2 separate regions of the Homo sapiens genome follow, and region 2 is linked to region 1. The links come from fine-mapping of genetic effects on gene expression. Tissue or cell type: whole blood. Region 1 holds a variant in brackets; the other region holds the start of a gene. All regions are shown on one strand. Distances are between the middles of the regions.

Evidence for each region. PIP is the estimated chance that this variant, and not a neighbour inherited with it, causes the effect.
Region 2: it holds the start of CERS4, and the variant in region 1 is fine-mapped to the expression of CERS4 in whole blood (INTERVAL, PIP above 0.99). The same link has a PIP of 0.9 or more in blood mononuclear cells and monocytes.

Annotation. Positions count from the first base shown.
Region 1 is chr19:8,241,162-8,243,912 of GRCh38, reverse strand. All of the region lies in intron 2 of CERS4 (ceramide synthase 4), which reads right to left. Among named protein-coding and RNA genes, the nearest start is that of CERS4, 33 kb to the right of the region's middle. The variant T/C (reference allele first, on the strand shown) is at 1,492.
Region 2 is chr19:8,207,898-8,210,648 of GRCh38, reverse strand. It overlaps CERS4 (ceramide synthase 4), which reads right to left and starts at 1,279. Exons shown (of 12, transcript NM_024552.3): 1 at 1,155-1,279. RefSeq lists a silencer at 679-1,598.

The sequences.
Region 1 (2,751 bases):
TGGATGAGCTGATTTCAGGACAGGAGTCAGGCTAAGTGTCAGACAACACAAATTGTGGGTGTGGGGGAGGGCAGCTAAAATGTTCCCGTGGGCGTGTGGAGGAGGCAGGAGCTACTCAGGTTTGGGGCACAGGCTTGGGGTGGGTGGGGCCTGGGTAGGACTTGTCAGTGAGTGGCTGCTGTTGAAATCCATGAAGATGGATGGAATCCTCTATCTATCAGCAAGGGGTCAACAAGACCCTGTTTTGGGGGAAAAAAAAAAAAAAGGAAGAGACTGCACATGAAGGGGCAGGCTAAGTACCATGCTATGGGGCAACTGACATTTAGGCATCAGTGAAGTATTAGAAGCTGTTGCTAGCATTGGATACTCTGGTTGGGGAGGGGCACTAGAAGTCAGTGACCCAACAAGCAGTCAAGGGTGTGGGATAGCAGCTAGTCTAGACCTACAACGAGGCCCAGGCATCCCAGACAGAGTAGACACATGAACAGCTGGGTGGATGTGGGGACTTCAGCCCAGGTGGTTGATTTCTCAAGAAAAAGAAATCATCTTCACTAGCAGACAAGGTTGGCTTGATCCCGTGTGCCCGTGGGGGCTCAAGGACACATGGCCAGCTTGGCACTCTTGGTCCCAACTGTACTCAGCTCTCACAGCCAAAGCCATGACCACTGCAGGGTATCTGCAATCCCCTATTTTTTTTTTTTTTTTTTTTTTTTTTTTTAGAGACAGGGTCTCACTTTGTCACCCAGACTGGAGTGCACTGGCCTGATCATAGCTCACTGCAGCCTCAAACTCCTGGGTTCAAGCCATCCTCCCACCTCAGCCTTCTGAGTCACTGGTGCAGCTTTCTCAGAGACCCTGCTACCTTTCTGACAGACCCCAAGGTGCAGATGGAAGGGGACTAGGTGTCCTAGGAAGGCCCAGGCATCCAGACCCCCAGCTCCATGTTTTCCCCTCACCCAAGGGTCTTGGATGCATCCTTGCACACCTTGGTACATTCAAGTCATGATGAGTGTAGGGGATGAGGGAGAACCACAGGAGCAATGGCTTCTCACAATCTCAAGCCTTGCCTCTGCTGATGTGCCCAGCTTCAATGCCCACCAGTTTACTGACTGATACTCTGCTCCCACCAGACCATATCGTTTCACACATCCTAGCCTTTACAAATACTGGCCTCTGCCTAGAATGCTCATTTAGTATTTGGGTGCTGAAGACACAAAATGGTGGGGAAAACAAGCAACATCTCTGCCCTGAAGAGCTTAAACGCTTTCTTTCTCTGTTTGGCAAACTCCTATGCATCCTTCAAAACCCAGCTCAGTTGTCACCTCCTCCTGAAAGCAGCCCAATTGCCCTGCTTTGGATCCTGTTAAAGCACCCTCCCGCAACCCTGTCTTACTGTGATGTCAGGAGCTGGCCAGTGTTTTTGCAGGGAGGGTTGGAGAAGGAAGCATAACCAGTTCTAAACTCTCCTCTCCTCTGCTGAATCATGCCCAT[T/C]GCTTCCTGAGTGGCACAGAAAGGGGAACAGATGCACTTTCTAAACCAGGGAGCTCTCCAAGGAGGCTTCAGACTGATATGCCCTGATTGCAGAGGTCTGGCCCCAGAGGTCCTACTCTCTCACTAACCTCACCAACCTGTCTCTGTCTCGTCCCTTCCCTCTTCTCCCTCTTAAAGCATAAATAAAAGATGCTGTGGTTTGAGAAAAGAACAGGGTCTGGAGCCCAGCAGACTGGCTGGAGTCCTAGCTGCAATGCTTCAAAGCCCTGGGAGCCTCAATTTCGTCACCTGTTGGTGGGACAGGTGCCCTCCCTGAAGGGTGGTTAAGCAGCTCAGAGACCTTGCACCTGGGGCATTGAGGCAGAGTCTGGCATATGGGAGGGGCTCAGGCATGGCTATAACCAGGCACCTCAGGCCAGCAAGGCTCAACTTCTCCTGAGGGAAGGGAGGAAATGAGGCTGAGGGATGTGTTCCTCAATTTCTAGCTTTTCTCTTTTGGATCCAGTTCTTCTGTTTGTTCCCTGTCATCCTCTGTCTTCCTGGGCCTCAGTTGTCCCATCTGAAAAATGGGTACAGCTAGATTCCCTCCTTGTTCTACCAGGCTATTGTGAGGCTCAGGGCAGGCGGGCAGTTTATAAACACTCCATGCTGATATCACAACGGATCTGATTCCTGATTCCTGCCTCACCCGTTTACCAGGCATGGAACGTGGCCTATCTGTGCCTCAGTTTTATCTGTAAAATGGAACAAACAATAGCCCCTCTTCCACATGGAGTGGTTCGGAATGGCACCTGAGGTGGAGTGAGCACCTAGTAAAATTTAGAGGACCGAGTGCAGTGGCTCACACCCAGCACTTTGAGAGGCCGAAGTGGGAGGATTGCTTAAGGTCAGGAGTTCGAGACCAGCCAGGGCAACATAGCAAGACAAAAAAATTTAAAAATTAGGTGGGCATAGTGACACACACCTGTAATCCCGGCTACTCAGGAGGCTGAGGTGAGAGGACTGGTTGAGCCCAGGAGTTTGAGGCTGCAGTGAGCTGTGATCACACCACTGCACTCCAGCCTGGGTGACGGAGCAGATCCTGTTTCGGAAAAAAACCCCCCAAAAAACAGCTTAGACTGTGATAGTTACTGCTAGACAGGAGGTGGGGGCAGGATGGGGAGTGGTCTGGAAAGAAGGGGTGCTGGCCTATGGAGGCTTCTAGATGGTTCTTCCAAGCCCTTAGGACGGTTTCCAGCATCTGAGGTGCCTAAGGCTGCT
Region 2 (2,751 bases), 33 kb after region 1:
CAGTCCAGGAACCCTATCCCCATATAACAGACCCAGGTCGCCCCAGTGGGGTCACCCTGGCCTCTGCGCTCAGATGCCTGAGACCTTGCCTGAGCTCAGACTGGAGTCGATGGGAGCATTCCCCCATCTGGTAGGTTTTGCAAACCACAACAGCCTCTCCCCCTGCCCACCTTCCTGTGTCCCCCAGAGCAGCTTCTCCTCAAGTCTCCCAACCCAGCAATGAAAGCCTCTTCTATATACTCCTAACTACCCAGGAGAAACATCGGTCCCCCACGCTCCACTTGCAAACAGACAGAATTAGACGATGTTACTCTGCCAAAGCGAATTTTCAGTTCACCCACTTCCTATCACACCTTCCAGCCAGGTCAAGCCAGAAGCCCCCTTCCAAGTATCCCCATCTCTCCTACCCACAGCGGCTACGGGATGTTCTTAAGACACAATCCGATCACGCCATGCACCTGCTGTTCCAAGCCTCCCTGGTCCCCACCGCCCCGAGAACGGGTTCCACACTCTCCTCGCCGCTTCCCAGGCCCCGGCCAACCTCTCTCCACCTCAGACCCTCCCTCTCCGCGTTTCAGCCAGGCTGGCCTCTTTTCTGCTCCGCACACACTCCCGGCTAGGCCCTGGGCCTAAAAAGCCCTCGCTGGCTGGTCCAACCAGGCCAAATGACATTATCCCCGCCTGGGCACCTCCACCTCACCCCGGCCGCCTGATGGGTTAGCTCGGGCTTGGAATGACGTGTTTAAGCGGTTCTCAGAAGCCGTCTACGCGGCCGGGCTGCGGACTCCGAGGCCAGGGCCCCAGCTGCGTCCCCAGCCCTGGCACGTCGGGGAAACGGGGCGCTCCCCCGGCTCACACATCCGGATTCCCCCGCGTCACGAGGCCAGGATCGCCCCTACTCGCTCCAGCCCGTTTCACAGCCGCGTCCTCGGGCACCCGTTGCGCCCCGGCCCTCGTGGGGGAGCGCGGATAGCTCGGGGAGACGGCCATGATGGGAAGCCCCGAGGGGGACAGTCCCCGGCGGGGTGATGGGGGCTGGAGCCCAGCTGCGAGTGGGGGCCGGGCTGGGGCCGCCATGGCCGCGGAGGCGGGGCCGGGGACCGCCGTGAGGGTGGCGTTCGGGGCGGTGTTCGCGGCGCGGGGTGCTCGCTTACCTGGGGGTGCAGGCGGCCGGGCGCACCGAGGGCCGGCGGCGGGGCTGGGGACGGCGCGCCTAGCGGGCTACCCGGAGCAGCTGCAGACACGCGCCGCCCGCCCCAGGCAGCCGGACTCTGCTCCTGGCCGGGCCTCGGCCCCCAGCAGGGGAAAAAAGGCTTGAGTGGGGGGAGCCCGGGGCGGGGCCGTGGGGGCGGGGCCTGGGCGGGGCACGCGCCCCGGAACGGTGGGGCCTGGCGCGGGGCTGGGGCCCTGGAGAGGCGGGGCCTGGCGCGGGGCGGGGGACTTGGAGGGGCAGGGCCTGGAGCGGGCGCCGGGTCCTCCAGGCGCTTGCCCCCCTCGACGCAACTAGGCCTCTCCCTGGCCCCCGACCCCGCACCCGCACCCCATCCCCGCCCCCGTCCCCGCCCCCCCATTCTCGCCCCCGCCCCCGTTCCCGCTCCGCCCATCTCTGCCCCGCGGCGCGCCTGGCCCGGGTCCAGCCTAGCGTTTCTAGTCTGCGCCTTATCTCTCCCCTTTGAACCCAGTATTGTCCGCTGCGCGCTCCGTCCGGCCCCGGCTTCACCCCTGTTCGCTGTCTGTCTCCCCGGCCCCCTCCCAGGTCCCCTCTTCTGCCCGAGATGCTCTGGCTCTGCTCATCTGTCCACACCCCCACACTCCCGGGGCGCCCTGAGCCTCTGGGGCGCGCAGTTGGATGGTGCACAGGGGAGGCCCAGATTTCTCCAGGCCTCAGCGGCCACCCTGGGTACCCCGAGTCTGGGGCCCTGTTGGAGGGCCAGTCCAGGGGTTCGCCCGAGGCGCGCGCGGGGGCCAACCGAGGCGGTGAGGGCACCGGGCAAAGGCTGCGATTTGGTGGGGTGCAGGGGTCAGGCGACAGAGCTGGGGAGATAAGATGGGAGATAGGCCGGGTGGGTGGTGGCGCAGCCCTGGTTTTGGCTGAGGGCAGCAGCAGTGGGGGCTGGGTCCCCCGCTTGCCTGGTAGAACCGAAAATGACCCAGTCTCAGCAGCGCGCAGGGGCAGGGAGCCTGGGCGATCCCTGAACAGAGGACAGCCCCAGGGGTTTTCATAGTCGCTGGCCCACCGCATGTACTCTGGGCAAGTGGCTTCGCCTTTGGACAATAAGCCTCTGTAAAATGGGGATAATAAACCTTTCTCTGACTCAGCTCAGCAGACCCAAGACCCATGGGGTGAAGTTGGGGCCTCCCTGCCACAGGGCCCTAGGCAAGCTGAGATTTGATTTCCTCACACAGACAGGGGCGCGGGGGGCGGGGCGGTCAGGGAGGCAGGAGACCTCTGTTGCAAGTGTGGAAGAACCTGTCCCTCCAAGTTCAGACTCCTGGCGTTTGCACTTGGCCTTCCCTCTGCTACACTGTTTCTCTTTTCTTTTTTCTTTTTCTTTTTTTTTTTTTGAGACGGAGTCTTGCATTGTGGCCCGGGCTGGACTGCAATGGCATGATCTCGGCTCACTGCAACTTCTGCATCCTGGTTTCATTCGATTCTCCTGCCTCAGCCTCCCGAGTAGCTAGGATTACAGGCGCCCACAACACCCGGCTAATTTATATATATATATATTTTTTTTTTTGGAGAGACGGGGG